2 linked regions of the Homo sapiens genome follow. The protein of the gene in region 1 interacts with the protein of each later gene in a pairwise test. Each region holds a gene or a part of one and is shown on either strand. Other genes may lie near its edges. The genes, in order: PAWR and RRAS2.

Region 1 (3,822 bases):
GACATTTTGAAGGAAAGGTTTTAGAGCTAAAATTAATTCAAAGCCACTAAATTAAGTATTCGCTCTCCAGCTTTAAAAGCATATGATCCAGCTCTTTTTTCCCTGTATTAATCCTTGTCCCAAACACACAACCATCTGGTTAAAACAAATTCACCATAAGTTTTAGTTACAAGAAACATTATTTCAAGACAGACTCTTTACTGTTAAAAAAGCAGACATTTATAGATTTATTCTTGCAGTTTAAAATAATAAATCTTGATGTAATCAATTTGAATCACTTGAACCCGGGGGGTGGAGGTTGCAGTGAGCTGAGATCGCGCCACTGAACTCCAGCCTGGGCAACAGAGAGAGACTCCTTCTCAAAAAATAATAATAATAATAATAAAGAGTACCAATTTTAGGGTTTTTTTTTTTTTTTTTTGAGACAGAGTCTTACTCTTGCTGCCCAGGCTGGAGTGCAGCAGCGCAATCTTGGCTCACTGCAACCTCCGCCTCCTGGGATCAAGCAATTCTCCTGCCTCAACCTTCTGAGTAGCTGAGATTACAGGTGCCCACCACCATGCCCAGCTAATTTTTCATATTTTTAGTAGAGTCGGGGTTTTACCATGTTGGCCAGGCTGGTCTCGAACTCCTGACTTCACGTGATCCGCCCTCCTCGGCCTCCCAAAGTGCTGAGATTACAGGTGTGAGCCACAGCGCCTGGCCAATTTTAGATATTTCTTGAGGCAACTCTGTGCCAGTGCCCTTACATATGGTAGTGACAAAGCGCCTGTCACCCTCAGATTTTAACAAAACAGAGAACAAATCCATAAATCAGTCTATCTCCAAAAGAATAAAATTAAGTGAGCTAAACTGATAACTGCCCAAAGGAAATCAGTTTTTGGAAGAAAATGATACCTCTTACTAATTATTATTTCACTAACAAAAGAACAAAGTGAATAATGCAATTAATAATTTCTTCATATTTATATATTTTCATCCAATTGCCAAAAAAAACCCCTCCAAACCTGAAATATGGTGAAATACTTACTCTATTTAATAAATCAATTTCTTCTTTGAGTTTTCCAATCATTTCCTCTTTATCTTGCATCAGTCTCACAAGTCTTAGGTTTTCTTGTCTTTCTCTTACTACTTCCTGGTAGATACAATTAAAAACCAGTAATTAGGAAGTAATTGTTTATTTATAATCTTCCTAAGTGGCATATATCTCCCCAATTTGGTAAAATATCTTACATACATGAAGATTTCCAATGAATCCCTTAAGACATTTGGTGAAGGAACAAAGATCCCACCACAAAAGGAATCAGAGAATGCACAGGAGATATTAGGATGCTCCTGAGTAAAGCTATGTTTATACAAGTCTTTAACAAAACTAATGTAATAGACTCAATGATTTAACCTCGTGTGTGTGTGTGTGTGTGTGTGTGTGTATGTATGTATGGCAGTGTTTCACTCTTGTCACCCAGGCTGGAGTGCAATGGCACCTTGGCTCACTGCAACCTCCACCTCCTGGGTTCAAGCGATTCTCCTGCCTCAGCCTCCCAAGTAGCTGGAATTACAGGTGCATGCCACCATGCCTGGGTAATTTTCATATTTTTAGTACAGATGGGGCTTTGCCATGTTGCCCAGGCTGGTCTCGAACTCCTGACCTCAAGTGATCTGCCCGCCTCAGCCTACCAAAGTGCTGGGATTACAAGCGTGAGCCACTGTGCCCGGCCTGTGATTTAACTTATTTAGCTTATCACCACTATAAGTTATGAACTACCTTATTTTTTAATGGGTATCTTGTTTGAAATAATTCAAAATTAATTTTTCTTAAAAATACAAAGTTTAAAGGAGATGGCCCAATAGAAACTCTAAACAGAAAAACAATGGTCCTCAGTTTTACTTCTGGCTCTGCCAGTTAACTGATAATGGATAAAAAGAAGGAACTAAAATAGATTACTGATTTTTAATTTTTTTTTTCTTTAAACAATGCAACATCTTTTTCAAAGACATCTTATTTAGAATCCAGGGCACTGGGCTTGGTCAGCCACCTTGGGGGCAAAAGGGAAGCAGAGCTCAAAAGGCCTTGCCCAGAACTTGGCTTCTTTCTTACTAAACCTCCTACAGAGCAATCAACCATCCATATCCCTTAGCTGCTGCCAACTACTAGCAATTCAATCCAAACTCTTGTGGAACTCACGAAGCCTTTCTGGGCAACTATCTTCAAAACTATTAGATTACATATTGTCTAAACTTTTTAATTTAAAATTATGAAATAATAGGCTGGGCACAGTGGCTCACGCCTGTAATTCCAGCACTTTAGGAAGCCGAGGCGGGTGGATCACCTGAGGTTAGGAATTCAAGACCAGCCTGACCAACATGGTGAAACCCCTTCTCTACTAAAAATACAAAAAAAGAATTAGCCGGGCTTGGTGGTGCATGCCTGTAATCCCAGTTACTTGGAAGGCTGAGGCAGAAGAAACACTTGAACCTGGGAAGTGGAGGTTGCAGTGAGCCGATACTGAGCCATTGTACTCCAGCTTAGGCAACAAGAGCGAAACTCTGTCTCAAAACTAAATAAATAAATAAAAATAAATAAAACTATGAAATAATAATTCCAAGAAGAAACTGTTGTTAAAGCTTAGAAATGTGACCTCAAAAAATCATAAATGTTATAAAATAGAAACAAGTTTTAAAAATGAAATTTCTTTACATAACATATATAAATTAGATCTTTAATAATATAGAGAATAATCTCAAGTAAAACAAAACACATTTTCAACAATTACAAAAGTATTCAACACCATTGCTAATTTTAGGGGTTGAATGTCTATGGCACAAACCTGAGACCCTATGGTTAATAAATTTATGCCAAGAGTCATCTGACTTGCACTGAAAGACACTTTTAAACAGGCATATTCTTAGACAAAATTGTTTCAAACACCAAAGATGGACCTAACTCAGATTTACTCCTGTAATTTGTAAAGTTACAAATGAAAATCTATTCAGACAATATAATAAATACACAGTAGTATATATTTGCCAGCTCAGACTTCTAACCACTTCAAAAACAAGGGCTTTTAATATACTAAAGGTAACAGTTGGCAGAAAAGCGCACATATTAAATATTAAGGAATATTATTTCCTTTCTCACTCAGTTGCTATGAAACAAAAGAATTCTAATGGTATATTAATTTTATCAATCTTAAATAACTTATAATCCATACCTTTTCAAGATCTTCAATTTTCTTTTCCAGTGTGCTACTTGAAACCAGAGTACCTGAAACATTTGCATCCCTGTTATATCTAGGGAACCCACTTCTATCTGTTCGAGAATATCTACTTGAGACATCTTCTTCAGAGACACTGGTTGTGCTGTGGAAATATAAACATTTTATTAAAATCCCTAGTATTCAGCAAGAAAAATGCCAAGAATATTTTCTATTGAGCTTAAAAAAATTAACATTCCCCAAGGACATATGGTTATAGTAGCAACTTATTTGTAACTGTAGAAGTTAATCATTATTCCCACACAATGAAAAAAATGTAAAAGTACCATTAATTCTTTCGACCAATATCTACTGAATAGGTGTTAAGTAACGAACACTGTTCTGGATACTGAAGACGTAACAGCAAACACAAACATGGACTCTGCCCTTCATAGAGCTTTTGGTTAAAAGGGAATATAACTAATAATAAAGCAAGATGATCAGTAAAATAAGGTCAGTGATGGATACTATGAGAACTACGATAGGACAGATCTCCCAGATTATCTTTTTTTTTTTTTTTTTTGAGATGGGGTCTCACTCTTGTCACCCAGACTGGAGTGCAGTGGTG
Region 2 (3,822 bases), on another chromosome or scaffold:
TTCATTAAGGAAGGCACGGTGGAATTAATATCCTAAAGACCATTTTCCCCAACCAGAAAAAAAGGCGTGTCAAGTGGCATCACAAAATCTGTTTCAATTTTAAAGACCAACTTTAATTTGAAAAAGAAACTTTTAAAATATATATATATAGAGAGAGAGAGAGAGAGAGAGAGGGAGAGAGAGAGAGAGAGACATTTTTTTTTTTTGAGATATAGTCTTGCTGTGTTGCCCAGGCTGGAGTGCAGTGGCATGATCTCCGCCCACTACAACCCTCCGACTCCCAGGTTCAAGCAGTTCTCCTGCCTCAGCTCCTGAGTAGTAGCTGGGATTGCAGGCGCCCGCCACCACACCCAGCTAATTTTTGTATTTTTAGTAGAGACAGGGTTTCACCATGTTGGCCACGCTGGTCTCAAACTCCTGACTTCAAGTGATCCGCCCGCCTCAGCCTCTCAAAGTGCTGGGATTACAGGCATGAGCCACCGTGCCCAGCTAAAATTTTTTTTAATAGCTTTAAGAAAGTCTCTTCCCACTCTACTCCCCCAATTTAAAGTTATCAATTTATTTTCCTAACTGAATGGAGCAGACTATTTTTATTCAAAGCTTAGGAAAGACCATGATATTTCAGCAATCAGATGAATTAAAATCCCATCCCGGTAAGCAGTAGCCTGTTATCTACCAAGGGAAAGCAGTATTCTTGACCTACTCAACAAAAGTGCTCCCACTCGGCCAGGCATGGTGCAGGCCCAGGCGGGTGGATCACCTGAGGTCAGGAGTTCATGACCACCCTGGCCAACATGGTGAAACTCCACCTCTACTAAAAATACAAAATTAGCTGAGTGTTGTGGCACATGCCTGTCTATAATCCCAGCTACTTGGGAGGCTGAGGCTGGAGAATCGCTTGAACCTAGGATGTGGAGGCTGCAGATAGCCAAGATCACGCCATTGCACCACTGCACTCTAGCCTGAACAAGAGCGAAACTTCGTCTCAAAAAAAAAAAAAAAGTGTCCCCACTCAATTCCTACAACTTCCTTATCCCAAAACAGGGGTACGCATGCACACAAACACACACACACAGAGACAGACACAAAGAGAAAGAGAATGAACAAAACAAGAATAAGACGTAAGTTAAGAAACTGCAGGTTAAAATTTCCTTCTTCTCCAAAGGCAGTCATCCTCTATAAGAAAATGTTCTTCCTTGGGTGTACAGAAATTTTATCTAGGAATTGCCTGCAGGACCATTTCAACTGTTCCCCAAACAAGAAAACCTTTAGTATGGTACCACTTTGGGGGCAGGTGTCTTATTTCTCAATGCTAACAATTCATTTGTACATTAATGTTAAAAAAGTTTAAACACTAAAAATGTCTAGTTTCAAAATAATAGATAAAAGTTAACAGTTTAAGTAGTTTCTAATTGCAGGAAAAATCTTCGAGATGTAGCAATGGAACAGCAAATTGGGAATTTAAACTCACAACCTTCACATGTGGATCAATTAACTATTAACACAAATCTCCTGAAATCTCTTCTCGGCTCTCTGCCCCAGGAAAAAGCAATGAAAAAGTACTCAGCAAAAGACAAACTTTTAAAAAGCAATGCTGGGTCCAGACTAACAGGTCATAGGACTGACTGAAATTCAAGACGTGAGAAATCAGCTAACCCCTACCTACCTCAAAATCTGGCAAATTGTTGAATAAAAAGTTAATATGCTAAAAAAAATATATAAACCTCCCTGTAAATTTTTAAAACATATATGGCCTTTTCTCAGAGTTACCAGATAAAGCACTAACCCCAAAATTAAATGCTTACCTCATTATTTCTTAAAATTAAATCCAAACTGACAAAAAGAAATTTCTCCAACTCAAAACGGAATCCACATTCATCACCTGAATACCACACAGAAGTAAGGAGGGGAGTATAGGGTTGAGCCAGGAAGGAGAGGGCAATGAAGACTTAAAGTAATAGACCAGATTATGTGTCAAAGAAAAATGAAAAAATTACAAATTTTGTTTTGGAGGAACACCAAGATACAGAACTAACAGCAGCAAATAAAACCAAGTAACAATTTCTTTTTTTTTTTTTTTTTTTTTGAGACAAGAGTCTCACTCTGCTGCCCAGGCTGGAGTGCAGTGGCGCAACCTTGACTCACTGCGACCTCCACCTCCCAGGTTCAAGTGATTCTCTTGACTCAGCCTCCCGAGTAACTGGGATTACAAGCACGCACCAACACGCCCGGCTAATTTTTGTATTTTTAGTAGAGGTGGGGTTTCACCATGTTGGCCAGACTGGTCTCAAACTCCTGACCTCAAGTGATCCACCCACCTTGGCCTCCCAAAATGCTGGGATTACAGGTGTGAGCCACCACGCCCAGCCAACAATTCTTATTTGCTTACTCTGTAGATGGCACGGTGCTGGATGATTTACCTGCATTATTTTATTTACTCCAAAAACCCTAAGGGTACTATTATTTAATGTTATTCTCCCTTCTCAAATGGTGAAACTTGGGTTTAGAGAACCTAAGAAACTTGACTAAACACACAGCTAGTTAAATGAATAAAAAAAAAAAAACACTCCTAGAATTTCAAAAGTGCAGAAATTTGTTCAACCAAACCCAACATTTCATGGGGAAGAAAGAGAAGCTCAGTCGAGATAAAGGCAGATTAAGAAACTACTCAAAGTCACCTGGGTAGAGAGACATAGACCCCACACACCCAGCAGTCTCTCCTAACCACTCTGTACCATCCTGAAGTCATTTCCTACCTAGAGTTTACTTAACATTTAGGTGTTCTACCTACCAACAGAACTTTACACATTTTTCAAAGAAATATGAGCAACAGAAAGGAGGAGGTAATGTACACACACATATTCATTAAATAACATAATACTTTACATTTTATCATGGCTACTTTATGATTTGTTATATTTATTTTTAAAAAGGAAAAGGTATCTCAATTTAATTATCTTAGTTCCCTAATTTTGCAACTCTTCATATGAACAGAAGGTAACAACTAAATCTAAGTCAAAGAAAGTTAGGGTAAAAGGCATTGTTTTTAAATTCTCCGTTCCCAATTTTATATTTTTTTCTGCTCAAAATCACATAGTAGAAAATATATATACTGAAAATTGTAAAAACAGTCTGGTGTTTCAGGAGTCTTAAAAAAGTAAGTCCAATTTGTGCCATTCTAATCTCCTACCAAGAGAACTGACTTCTGCTTATTAAAATGATTAGTCTGCTGTGTTCTCTCCCTCCAGTTACTACTGCTAAACAATCATGGTGGAATGAATTTTAACATTCCAGGAGTCAGGCAATGAATAGCTACCCTATTAAGTGTAAATATAAAAAAATCGCTTTAGCTCCATAATCTAAAATTAATATAAAAATGTATGCAGCTTTACTACAGACTGTACTAGACACTGTTCTAAGCCCTTGACATGTTAACTCATTTAATTTCACAGCTATATGTGGTCCACCATATTTCCCCAGTTTACAGATGGGGAAAACTAAGGTACAGAGAAGTTAAGTAACCTGCCTAAAATTACACATGCAGCAAGTGGTAGAGCTGAGACTGCATCCAGGTGGTCGGGTTCCTGTCTCTCCAAAAAGGCTCCTTTTTGCAGAGACCAGATCACAGGTCCCAAATCAACTATCAATCCCACTTCCCCACTTGCCACCTCCTCTCTCCAAACTAGCATATGACTCCCACATATGACATTTCCATTCTCCCCACCACCAAGCCTACATAATGCTTTCATCAATTTTTTCCACAGACTTCTCTGAGTCTGAATTCCCTTTGCATTTAAACATGTTACAGAACTGTAGGCATAA

The links.
Region 2: the proteins of PAWR (region 1) and RRAS2 interact in a two-hybrid assay, tested with the Homo sapiens proteins (one large-scale study listed by IntAct).

Annotation. Positions count from the first base shown.
Region 1 is NC_000012.12:79,593,299-79,597,120, forward strand, and holds part of PAWR (PRKC apoptosis WT1 regulator protein), read right to left. Parts: intron 3,361-3,822; coding exon 3,213-3,360; intron 1,136-3,212; coding exon 1,031-1,135; intron 1-1,030. UniProt on the Homo sapiens protein: Pro-apoptotic protein capable of selectively inducing apoptosis in cancer cells, sensitizing the cells to diverse apoptotic stimuli and causing regression of tumors in animal models.
Region 2 is NC_000011.10:14,352,608-14,356,429, forward strand, and holds part of RRAS2 (ras-related protein R-Ras2), read right to left. Parts: intron 1-3,822. UniProt on the Homo sapiens protein: GTP-binding protein with GTPase activity, involved in the regulation of MAPK signaling pathway and thereby controlling multiple cellular processes. Regulates craniofacial development.